2 separate regions of the Homo sapiens genome follow, and region 2 is linked to region 1. A link means that fine-mapping ties the variant in region 1 to the expression of a gene that starts in the linked region. Tissue or cell type: whole blood. Region 1 holds a variant in brackets; the other region holds the start of a gene. All regions are shown on one strand. Distances are from middle to middle.

Region 1 (8,169 bases):
TTAGTACAGCTTCACTTTTTACTTAGGACTGTTTAAGGCAACACATATCTTTTCCATACACAAGAGTTTCAGTAATTTAAAAATAGCTATTAAGTACGTTTGATTGGTTTCTCAGAGGATGTGGTCTACCACTCTACCCTTTTTCTACTGAAGATTTTCTAGTGTGTCTATATTCCTTTTAAAATGTGGTGCCCAATACAGAATACAAGATGCATGCAAACTCAAGATTATTCATCTAGATACTATACTTCTGTTGCTTAAGACAGGACCATACTGAACCTTGAAAGTCAGGGCAAGGACTTTGAATTTTGTTCTTTCAGGTATCGGGAAGCAATGGAAGGTTTTGAGCAGATAAACATTTTGGGAGCAGGGGCCATATCTTACTGTGTATCCCATTGATTCTAACTAGAATGTAAGCTCTAGGTGTCTGTCCCATTCATAGCATGGATTCAGTGCCTGGGGAGGGCTGGCATATTTTATGTATTTAATACGTCTACATGAATGAATTAATATGAATCTCTATCGGTGTCTGGCACATAGTGCATACAACAGTTCATACTTGTTGAATTCAGGCAGGTAAATGATCAAAGCCATACTTCAGGAAGATAACTGGCAAGAGTGCGTAAAAAGTATTGGAGCTAACACACACTATAGGGTGAAAACAACAAGAGGAGTTTTAGCAGTCTCAACAAGGGGAAACAAGGGCTAGGATAACACAGTGAGTAACAGAAAGGAAAGAATGGATGTGAGATTGTGAAAGAGAATTTGTGACGACCTGGAAATTAAGTGGACATGTAGTGGGAAGAAGAAGGAAGTGATAAAGAAAACTCCTGGGCTTAAATTTGGAAAGCTGAAAGAAAAATGATGCCATTCATAGAATTATTTATTTTAGGAGTTGCTTTTTTTTTTTTTTTTGAGACAGAGTCTTGCTGTGTCGCCCAGGCTGGAGTGCAGTGGTGCGATCTCGGCTCACTGCAAGCTCTGTCTCCCGGGTTCACGCCATTCTCCTGCCTCAGCCTCCCGAGTAGCTGGGACTACAGGTGCCCGCTGCCACGCCCGGCTAAGTTTTTGTAGAGACGGGGTCTCATCCTGTTAGCCAGGATGGTCTCGATCTCCTGACCTCGTGATCCGCCCGCTTCGGCTTCCCAGAGTGCTGGGATTACAGGCGTGAGCCACTGCACCCAGAGGAGTGGCAGATATTTTAAGGTACTAGGATGAAATCAGTCTGAGGTAGGCTGAATTTAAATGCACTGATACAATATGCTCAGGAGGCTAAAATGTGGGACTGGAATTCAGAAGTAGAGTGAGATCGGCTAGGCACGGTGATTCATTCCTATAATCCCAGCCCTTTGAGAGGCTGAGGCGGGTGGATTGCTTGAGCCCAGGAATTCGAGACCAGTCTGGGCAACATAGCAAGACCCCATCTCTACAAAAAAACAAAAACAAAATCAAATTAGCCTGGCGTGGTGGCACGCACCTATAGTCCCTCCCAGCTACTCAGGAGGCTGATGTGAGAGGATCGATTGAGCCCAGGAGGTCAAGGATGCAGTAAGCCATGATCGCACCACTGCACTCCAGCCTGGGTGACAAAGCAAGCCCCTGTCTAAATAAATAAATAAATAAATAATAAAATACATTCTTATTAGAAAGGAAAATGCTGTTTTGTTTCTAAGTATGCCATGTATATTTTTTACTCATTTTCATATGCAGTGATCCAGATTTTGTATGGCCTAAAATTTATACAACATGGGGGTCTCTCTTTAAGGAAAGAATAAAAGATTTAAAATACAAAATTAGGGCCAGGTGCAGTGGCTCACCCCTGTAATCCCAACACTTTGGGAGGCCGAGGTCGCGGGGGATCACCTTCGGTCAGGAGTTCGAGACCAGCCTGGCCAACATGGTGAAACCCTGTCTCTACTAAAAAGTACAAAAAATTAGCCAGGCATGGTGGTGCACGCCTGTAGTCCCAGCTACTCGGGAGGCTGAGGCAGGAGAATTGCTTGAACCTGGGAGGCAGAGGTTGTATTGAGCCAAGATCGCGCCACTGCACTCCAGCCTAGGCGGCAGAGTGAGACTGTCTCAAAAAAAAAAAAAATAAATTAGGTAAAATGTTTTCAAAATGGGGGGAAAAGTCACAACAAATTTAATTCTTATGCAAAATAGCTTTTCTTGAGAAATACACTTTCAAAAATGGTAGAGCTAAAATCTGTTTTCCAAAGGGAATACCTGTCTTAGAATTTTTTTTAAGTGGCTTTTAAGGTTCTTGTTTTGTTTGAGATGAGTAGCAGCACTTCTTGGGATTATAGTAGGAGAAAGGAGGTGTGGTGTGAAGCTATTGGTTTATGTTAAATTTGGACCTACTAAAGTAAGAATCAGAATAATGGCATTTACAAATCCTTGGCAACATCAATTCCACTTTCAGTTCCAGAAAGATCCATTACCTTTTCCTTTCTCTGTGTTCCTTTTCCAGATCACTTCATTCTTCCCACCTGCAATGACCTGCCATTCTTGAAGAAGACCAAAATACTAAAAAGACCCAGTTTTTCTCTCCTGGCCATAAGTTTAGTGCAAAGAGAGAGATGATGGTGAAGAAACACAATAATGCAGCTTTTTTTTACTATAATCCTTAAAATCAAAGACACTCTCTGGCTAATAGGACTAATCAGAGGTCCCCCCAACTTTCCTCAAAAAGAGACTATGCTCAAGACATCCCTTCTCAGATGAAAGTTTAACTTTTCGTAAAAAGCTCTAACGAAAAAGGTCTTGGGCTGAGACAGACGGGTTGCTTGAGACCAGGAGTTTGAGTTCAGTCTGGGCAACATAGCAAGATCCTGCCTCTAAAAATAATAATAATAATAATAATAATAAAGCTCTTTACTTCCTTCAGTCATTTCCCCACGATTTCCCAAGTTCATAGCAAGGTGCTATTAAACTCAGAAGAATTCTTGGAATTTCTCCCAGTGAAAACTCCACCAGGAAGGCAATGTGGGTAGTTACCTACCTTCTGAGAGCGGATATCCAAGGCTACATTCACTTGTTGCCAGGGCAGTCTCCTCCTACTCAAGTACATCTCTTGGCAGCCTCTGTTTTTATCAACCTCTTCCCACAAAAGGAGAGTGGTTGGTAGCTCTCTCCCTTCCCCACTCCCACGCTGAACTCAGAAGCTTCATGAATAGTTCAATTGAAACAGGATCAAGTTTCAGACACTCCCATACTGAGAAAATGATCCCACTAGATTAAATTGGAGCCTAGATCAGTGGAGGAATATTTCCACAACTCTGCCAGGGCCAGGACAGCCACCATTAAAAGCTCAGGTAAAAATTTCTTTCTTTTCTTTTTTTTTTTTTGAGATGGTGTCTCGCTCTGTTGCCCAGGCTGGAGTGCAGTGGTGCAATCTTGGCTCACTGCAACCTCTGCCTCCCGGGTTCAAGAGATCTTCTGCCTCAGCCTCCAAGTAGCTGGGACTACAGGTGCATGCCACCATGCCCAGCTAATTTTTGTATTTTTAGTAGAGATGGGGTTTCACCATATTGGCCAGGCTGGTCTCAAACTCCTGACCTTGTGTTCCACCCCTCTCAGCCTCCCAAAGTGCTGGGATTACAGGCGTGAGCCACTACGCCCCGCCTCAGGTAAAAACTTCTAAGTAGGATCACATGAGTGGTAGAGGATGGATTGGTAGCCAACTTTTTGGTCTATGCAACAGGTCTCTGAATTACAGCATCTCCCAGGGACTTGCTAGAAATGCAAACT[C/G]TTGGACCCTTATCCTGGTCCTAATGAATAAGAAATTTTGGGGGTGTTGGCCTGTGTGTGTGTGTGTGTGTGTGTGTGTGTGTGTGTGTGTATTTAAGAGATGGGGTCTATGTTGCCCAGGCTGGAGTGCAGTGGCTATTCATAGGTGAATCACAGTGCACTACAGCCTCAAACTCCTGGGCTCAAGTGATCCTCCTGCCTCAGCCTCCCCAGTAGCCGGGACTACAGGCATGCACCACCACTTCCTGTGGCATTTGTGTTTTAACCAGCTTCTCTAGGTGATTGTGATGTATGCTTAAGTTTGGGAACTACTTGTCAACAGGATTAGTGATGCTTTAAAATGTTTTCCCCTCTTTCCTCAGAAGAATTTACTTGACACATTTGATTTAAAAAGTCAGGCCGGGCGCGGTGGCTCACGCTTGTAATCCCAGCACTTTGGGAGGCTGCGGCAGGCGGATCACGAGGTCAGGAAATCGAGACCATCCTGGCTAACACAGTGAGATCCGGTCTCTACTAAAAATACAAAAAATTAGCTGGGCGTGGTAGCGAGCACCTGTAGTCACAGCTACTCGGGAGGCTGAGGCAGGAGAATGGCGTGAACCTGGGAGGCGGAGCTTGCAGTGAGCCGAGATCGCGCCACTGCATTCCCGCCTGGGTGACAGAGCCAGACTCCATCTCACAAAAAAAAAAAAAAAAAAAAAAAAAAGTCATAACCGGGCCAGGCATGGTGGCTCACGCCAGTAAACCCAGCACTTTCGGAGGCTGAGGCAGGTGGATCACTTGAGGTCGGGAGTTAGAGACCAGCCTGGCCAACATTACAAAACCCCGTCTCTACTAAAAATACAAAAATTGGCCAGGTATGTTGGTGTGCGCCTGTGGTCCCAGCTACTTGGGAGGCAGAGGTTGCAGTGAGCCGAGATGGTGCCACTGCACTCCAGCCTGGGCGACGGAGCCAGACTCCATATCAAAAAAAAAAAAAAAAAATCTGCTTTATTCTTTTTAATGGCTGCTGAGTACTCAAGTAGTCCATTTTCTCTGTTGGTGGGCTTTTGTATTGTTTCAAATTTCTTATAGCAACATTGCAATAAATATCCGTGTTTGTGTGTGTATATATACATACACATATATACATACATACATATATATACACATACATATATATACATACATATATATATATATATATATATATTTTTTTTTTTTTTTTTTTTTTTTTTTTTTGAGATAGAGTCTCACTCTGTCACCCAGGCTGGAGTGACAGCCTTGTATATATATTTCTCTGGGCACTTGTGGAAATGTTTTTGTGGAATAAATTCCTCCAAATATTAAAAATATACATGCTAGGTTGTAGGATATGCACATTTGGAATTTTAATAGATATTACCAAATTACACACTAAACGGTTATAGTAATTTACACTCCAATCAAATAGGCATGAAAGTGCCTTTTCTTTTTTTTCATAGCTTCACCAATGTAAGTTACTCAGAGTCTCTGAAATATTTGTTGAGCTAATTGGTTAAAAACAATATCTCAGTTTTTAGGCTGGGAACGGTGGCTAACGCCTGTAATCCTAGCACTTTGGGAGGCCGAGGCGGGTGGATTACCTGAGGTCAGGAGTTCGAGACCAACCTGACCAACATGGTGAAACCCTGTCTCTACTAAAAATACAAAAAATTAGCCGGACATGGTGGTGTGCGCCTGTAATCCCAGCTACTTGGGTTGCTGAGGAAGGAGAATTGCTTGAACCCAGGAGGGTGAGGTTGCGGTGAGCTGAGATCGAGCCACTGCACTCCAGCCTGGGCAACAGAACAAGAAATTGAGACTCCATCTCAAGAAAAACAAAAACAAAAACAAAAACAAAAAAACCCCACAATATCTTTTTTGTTTTGTTTTGTTTTGTTTTTGATTTTTTGACACAGCGTCTTGCTCTGTCGCCCAGCCTGGAGTGCAGTGGTGTGATCTCGGCTCACTGCAACCTCCGCCTCTGGGGTTCAAGTGATTCTCCTGCCTCAGCTTCCTGAGTAACTGGGATTACAGGCGCACGCCACCATGCCCGGCTAATTTTTGTATTTTTAGTAGAGACGAGGTTTCACCATGTTGGTCAGGCTTTTCTCGAACTCCTGACCTCATGATCTGCCCGCCTCGGCCTCCCAAAGTGCTGGGATTACAGGTGTGAGCCACTGCGCCTGGCCCAATATCTCAGTTTTTTAAAGATTGCATTTCTCTAATTACTACAGTATTTGAATCTCTATTGATTTACATATTTTGCAGATACATACAAACCTATCTTCACCTTACCTATCCTTTTCCCTTTTGACTGAGCTATTAACCTTTTACTTATTGATTTGAAAATGTATATCTATCTACAAACATAAGTACACACAGATACATTTTTACACATTTTTTACTTATTAATAACTTTTTTGTGATACATGTGGTTCCCAGTGCCTATCCTCTGACTCCAACTCTCTCACTTTTGAATTTGCTATCAACATCAGCTTCCAGAATTAAACCTCTCTTCTCAGTCCAATAACTTCTGGCTTCATTTGCTTCCCAGACCAGTCTCATCCCCTTTCAGATATTTTTAAACTAGGGTCTTCTGCAATTCTAGAATCTTCCATCTTCAAGATACTGATCAGTTCATCATCTCTCCAATTGTGGGTAAACTGTTCACTTTCTTTCCTCAGGTTTCTGAGTATTGACAGAAATTACAATGCTCCATAGTTTCATGAAAATTTATGCTTTCTAACTTTGTCTAGCTCCCCAGAGCATTTGGTGATCTTTTTTTGTTTCCTTTTTCTACTCCTGTGGCAGATTATTCACAGTCGTTTTGTTCATACCTAGTTGACTTCCCAACCAATTGCTTACAGCTGTGCAGCTACACCCACCCTCATTTCTACCTCTTATTCCCAGCAGAAGTTTCACCTGTTACTTTTCTTTGAGACTCAAAGTCATCACACATGAGTTCCCTTTCCTCCACTTCAAAATGTCTACACATTTTTAGAAAAAGGGTATCTTGGTTTTCTGAGAACACTTTCACATGCTGCCCTAACCCTGTCTCCTTCTCTCCCCTAGAACCAGTCTTGTTTTCTCAGGCATATATATTTCTTGCATTTTTTTATTTTTTTGTTTTTTGAGACAGAGTCTTACTCTGTCACTCAGGCTGGAGTGCAGTGGTGCGATCTGGGCTCACTGCAACTTCCAGCTCCCAGGCTCAAGTGATTCTCATGCCTCAGCTTCCCGAGTAGGCGGGATTACAGGTGTGTAACACCACGCCTAGCTAGTTTTTGTATTTTTAGTAGAGATGAGGTTTTGCCATGTTGGCCAGGCTAGTTTCGAACTCCTGACCACAGGTGATTCACCCACCTTGGCCTCCCAAAGTGCTGGGATTATAGGCATGAGCCACCACACCTGGATGTTTCTTGCATTTTTAGTTTGCTCCTTTCCACAAGCTCAGTCTATAGAAATATTTTACTATTTCCACCCCTAGCCTAACCCCTACCGCAGCTACCATTTGATTATTTTTCTCTTCTTTGTCATGTTTCTTGAAAAAATAATCTGTGCTAACTAACTGTGTCTACTTAGTTTCTACTCACTTCTCACCCACTTGCAATCTGGTTTCCATTCCTTAGATGTGCTCGTAGGCTGGGCGTCGTGGCTCACGCCTGTAATCCCAGCACTTTGGGAGGCCGAGGTGGGTGGATCACCTGAGGTCAGGAGTTTGAGACCAGCCTCTGTGAAACCCCGTCTCTACTAAAAATACAATAATTAGTTGGGCGTGGTGGCGGGTGCCTGTAATCCCAGCTACTCGGGTGGCTGAGGCAGGAGAATCGCTTGAACCAGGGAGGCGGAGGTTGCAGTGAGCCAAGATCATGCCATTGCACTCCAGTCTGGGCAAAAAAAGCAAAACTCCATTTAAAAAAAAAAATTATTTGTTGTTTATCCAGCATTCAGATCAAACTGGCTTAGCTTTATTTTTATTTGCTAAATCTGGCAACCATACCCAGAGACACTTAATAAAACTTTGGAGGCTGGTCTGAGTGCCTTGGTGTTTACAACTAATTGATCCCAATCAGTTACAGATTTCTTTGTTCCTTCACTTGACTGGTCTTAAAAAACAAACAAAAACAAAAAACAATTTAAAAACTACCATTCTAAATAATTAAAAAAACCAGTTTACCATAAGAGTTAACAGAAAAAAACTGTAATTTTCTATTAATTTACAAATTAATATAAACATAATAGTAATAGTATTAGTAATGGTTAAATATTGATAAGCTGAAAATGTGTATAAAAACATGTAGATCAGGCTTCACAGTCAACAGATTTCTTAATTTTTTAAAATTTGCCAACTGGCATCCTGATCTGATCTGTTAATTTTTATTTCTACTAAAATTAGAAAATCTGTATTTACAGTGA
Region 2 (5,081 bases), 78 kb after region 1:
GCCCTCTTGCAAAGTAGCCTCTTTCATCCCATACTCAAAATACCCAGTTTAGCAAGCAACTGAGATTTAAGTCTCTCTGGCCCTAAGAGGTTTTTCCTCTTTGCTCCCTCCAATCTTGAGATTGGGTTTTGCTTTAGAGTGCAAGTATCATAATTCCGTATGATAGATGGGGCCTGGACACCCATCTCAACAGGGTCACTTGGTAATTAACAATAGCCATATAAATGCGGATACAGGTTACTACCCTCACCCTTTACCTTCCTCAGGTAACAGTCGTAGATACCAGCTTTTTTTTTTTTTTTTTTAAATTGGCTTTGGCCAGTAGCTAAAGTGCAAGACTGAATTAATGAGAAGATATATTAAATGTAGTCATAGGGGACTGAGGAGCAAGGGTGGCCTTGAAGAGGCCAAAGGAATGTCCATTTGCTGAGTTTCCCTTCCTTATGTCTCCAGTCTGGTGCCAGGTAGTGGAGTAAAAAAGGAGACAGTTTATTTTTTTATTCTATGTGCACACTTACAGTATACATATATATTTATATCACAATTTACGAAACCAAAAAGTTGAGTTTCCAATGGAACCCTTGTTTTTTAATAATCGACTTTTTAAATGTGATCAGGACTATAATATTGTACAGTTATTATAGGGCTTTTGGGGAAGGGGAGGATAGCGAGAAGATGCTCTGGGGGTTTTGTTTTTGCTTTTCCTTCAGGGTTTTATTTTTGACTGTTTTGTTTTCTTGTTGGCCATTTCTGTATTGCTGGCATCTGTGCTAAGCTTTACAGTGGCAAAAATAATGACATGTAGCAAAGATTTTCAAACAAAATATTTTTTCCTTTTGTAAAATTTCTTGTGTTGTGTGATCTTGATTGCGGCTTTATCATTCCTTTCCAGTTCATAAACAACAGGCACCCACAACCAGAGGAATCTATAGTTTAAGCTCCAGACATACAAACATAAGGCACATTGTGTCTTTAATTTCAGGAATCAGAAATCATAGGGTTCTGATCACATTGCACGCCTCCCCCCTCACTTGTCCTCCTGATCCTGACACATTCTGAGTAACATCAGCAGGAATGCTCTGACCATGAGGTGGGGGTTTTGGGGTGGGCGTTGCCTGGGTTCTTGGGAGAGAGGGGAAGAGTCGGGACTTGAAAACCACTAGGGCACATCTGGATGCCTTCCCCCAGTATGTCCTTTTCTGGATTAAAATGAGTGAAATTTAAACTGTTCAAGTCTGGACCTGGTTTCCCTCTAGGAGACTATGTTGGTTCATTAGCAACTTTTTTTTTTTTTTTTTTTTTTGTGTGTGTGTGTGTGTGTGTGTGTGAGAGATGGAGTCTCGCTCTGTTACCCAGGCTGGAGTGCAGTGGCACGATCTTGGCTCACTGCAACCTCTGCCCCTTGGGTTCAAGCAATTCTCCTGCCTCAGCTTCCCAAGTAGCTGGCACTACAGGTGTGTGCCACCATGCCCAGCTAATTTTTGTGTTTTTTTTTTTTAGTAGAGATGGGGTTTCACTATATGTTGGCCAGGCTAGTCTCGAACTCCTGACCTTAGGTGATCCACATGCTTTGGCCTCCCAAAGGCCTGGGATTACAGGCGTGAACCACTGCGCCTAGCCTGTTAGCAGCTCTTAAAATCCAGAGGCATAAGCCTGTATTTTTGAGGGTTTATGCATGGAATCCAGCTAGAAACTGAGTCTATTACAGATCCCATTTATTATCCTTTCTATTCCAAGAAGCCTTTTTTTCTCCTTCCCCACATCTGTTTATGGAAGAAAATGAAGTTTGGGGTGTGGTTTGAGGAATCAGCTAGATTCTTATGATCTGTCACATGCTTGGATGTTGGGGAAGCATTTGGAGAAGCTCATGTGACTTGTCCTAGATTGGGGATTTTAATTGAGACAGATGATGTTTATCGGGCATCCCACCACCTGAGAGTTTTAGCAACAGAGTCACATGTGAGTCCATCAGAACTTACGGCATTGATTCAAGTGCTGTCATAAATAACCAGGACTGCTGTTTTTGGTTACTTTTAAAGACAGTTTCATCTGGACTTTCTGGGCATATCCTCCTTCAGCAAAACCACATTAGGCTGGGAAAACTATTCTGCCTGGAAGTAATGACAACTTGCAACCAACAAGCTTATAAAAATACAAAGAATTCTGGAGCCTATGGCTTCCATTACATTATTCTTTTATAGCCTTTTATGTTCATTACCGCATCCCAGAGGTGAGAGTCAGACACAAATATGAAAATAGGTTTCAATGTTGGAGAGGTAAATCCTAACAGGAAAGGGGTAGGAAAAGATATAATCCCCCAATATTAAAATAAAGATATTGAAGAAGAAGGATGGGAGAGACTAGGGCTGTGTCCTTCCTTTTACTCACCAAAAGAGAAAGTAAGCTCCTATTTGAGTCAATAGATATTGAGGTCTTGTTATTTGCCACCAAAGACAGTCTTGTGAGACTAAATAGCTAGTAATTCCCTACCCTGGCACACATGCTGCATACACACAGAAACACTGCAAATCCACTGCCTCCTTCCCTCCTCCCTACCCTTCCTTCTCTCAGCATTTCTATCCCCGCCTCCTCCTCTTACCCAAATTTTCCAGCCGATCACTGGAGCTGACTTCCGCAATCCCGATGGAATAAATCTAGCACCCCTGATGGTGTGCCCACACTTTGCTGCCGAAACGAAGCCAGACAACAGATTTCCATCAGCAGGTAACGTTTGCAACTTCCTAGATCTTTTAGCTTTTCATTCCTGTCAATTCTCTGAGTATTAGGGATGTAGTGACTTGAGGATCACAATAAACTTTTAGCCTCTGCAGATGAAAACAGAGATGCACTTCTTAGGTCATTCCCTGGCTAAATAAAATCTGCCTGGAAATCTGTAGAATTCCTTGTATGATTTATATATATACATACATGATTGTTAGTAAAAGCAAAGTATATAGGGAATCATTTCCCCATCCTTCAAGAGTGGCCTTTCTGCAGTGTTTTCTACTTTGGCCAACAAGGATCAAAACGGTTAACTCCTTAGTGAGGAGGAGGAGAGTGGTATGGGGAGGTAGTAGCTCAGTGCTTCCTGTTCACTGAGACATCTCAAAGCCCTTAACACTCTAGTTTTTAAATGTCCTACTGGACATTTTGCCAGTTTGCAAAATTACATGTAAATGGACTATAAGCAATTGTGTAAGCCATATGTCATGCTGCAGGCTGCAAATTGTTCTTAAAATGGAGGATTTGTAATTAAGAAAGCCAATGCAAGAAATGAGTGAAGCTAACTAGAGTAAACTTATGAAAAGCTGTGAATTTCATCATCATAGAACATTGCTTTTCAGTCTGAACATTCTTCTAACAAACCTTGGATCTGAGGCTTCTTGTCCTTTGCGGCAGCCACAGTGGGTTTTTGTTGTTAGGGGAAAAATAAAAAACCTTGCCCGCAGCATCTGGTTAAGATTAGGGCAGTTTCCTGCCTAAGGAGGGAAGGGAGAGAAAAAGGAAGAAGAAATGCATAAGGAGAATGAGGAGATATACAATGTCTCAGAAAACAGGAAACATTGTCCTATTTTCCCTTGTCCTCTTCTGACAAGATCTGGGAAAGTACCAGAATTTAGGCACGAAAGAGAAGAACGCCTCGAAGAAATGATCAGGAGGCAAAACTTAGACGGAAATCTCTCCTTTGTGTATTCTGAACCCCACTACCACCTTGCTATTTGTCTGTCTCCAAGCCTGCTAGGGACCCTGGAGGAAACGCACTGAGCCCATTCTGATTGTCCAGTTTCTATCCCCCATTTCTGGTTGTGTACGTGTGTGTGTGTGTGTGTGTGTGTGTGTGTGTGTGTGTGTGTGTGAGAGAGAGAGAGACAGAGAGAGAAACAGAGAGAGTGTGTGTTGCCTAAATCTCCCGAGAGAGAGAGAGAGAGAGAAAGAGAGAAATGGCTAAATCCCCCTAGATCAAAGTCCTTGGAACCAGATGTACCAGCATCCTATCTAAACACAGGCCCCTCCTGACTATCATTGTTTTATCACCCTTTTTCCGTCTACCTTTCTCTTCCTCATAAAGCCTAGTTTTCCTCTGTTTCCCTGCCAAATGGAAGAGTTTTCCCTAACTACATTCTTCTGCAGGATGTGGGGGCTCAAGGTTCTGCTGCTACCTGTGGTGAGCTTTGCTCTGTACCCTGAGGAGATACTGGACACCCACTGGGAGCTATGGAAGAAGACCCACAGGAAGCAATATAACAACAAGGTGCCTGGGGTCCTGGAGGGGGCATGGCAGGAAGGCTGAGACCTGAGCTCTCTCATCTTAGCTTCCAGACTCCCTTCTTCAATCCAAATGCTTTATTCCAAGCAAATCAGTCCCTCTTCCCTAACTCATGTTAACATACGGTTTTCATTCCTATGCTTCAAATCATCCTCTGTCAAACTGTATCCTTCCTTTGCTTTATAAGTGTGTTACATTTCTCTTTTGGGAAGAGTTCTAAGATTAATGCTGTTAATCTATAAGCAATTTTTCTGTCTCTCCAGAGCTTTGTGTTGTATTTGTTTACATATTATCTCTTCTTGCAGGCTCTTAATTCCATGGTTAGTTCCCCAACTAAACTGTAAACTTTTATGATTGTGAGTTTCCTTTATTCTCCTAAAACCCTTCACAATATTACATATGTAACTGTAGACAGTCTATACAAGTACTGACTATGCTTTGTTTAGGTGGATGAAATCTCTCGGCGTTTAATTTGGGAAAAAAACCTGAAGTATATTTCCATCCATAACCTTGAGGCTTCTCTTGGTGTCCATACATATGAACTGGCTATGAACCACCTGGGGGACATGGCAAGTATAGCTTCAGCTCCTGTCCCACCTGCACCATTTGCTTTAGTTCCCTGCTGATGCCTGGCCTCTTTCTTCTTTGTCTTAGACCAGTGAAGAGGTGGTTCAGAAGATGACTGGACTCAAAGTACCCCTGTCTCATTCCCGCAGTAATGACACCCTTTATATCCCAGAATGGGAAGGTAGAGCCCCAGACTCTGTCGACTATCGAAAGAAAGGATATGTTACTCCTGTCAAAAATCAGGTAC

The links. PIP is the estimated chance that this variant, and not a neighbour inherited with it, causes the effect.
Region 2: CTSK starts here. The variant in region 1 is fine-mapped to the expression of CTSK in whole blood (INTERVAL, PIP 0.97).

What each region holds. Positions count from the first base shown.
Region 1 is chr1:150,882,146-150,890,314 of GRCh38, reverse strand. It overlaps CTXND2 (cortexin domain containing 2), which reads right to left and starts at 3,179. Exons shown (of 2, transcript NM_001384189.2): 1 at 3,002-3,179. It also overlaps a transcript of LOC107985204 not described here. RefSeq lists cis regulatory regions at 4,220, 5,985 and enhancers at 4,148-4,292, 5,913-6,057. The variant C/G (reference allele first, on the strand shown) is at 3,751.
Region 2 is chr1:150,805,857-150,810,937 of GRCh38, reverse strand. CTSK (cathepsin K) reads left to right here and starts at 2,678. Exons shown (of 8, transcript NM_000396.4): 1 at 2,678-2,724; 2 at 4,132-4,252; 3 at 4,714-4,836; 4 at 4,922-5,077. The coding sequence starts at 4,133. It overlaps ARNT (aryl hydrocarbon receptor nuclear translocator), which reads left to right. Exons shown (of 22, transcript NM_001668.4): 22 at 1-1,225.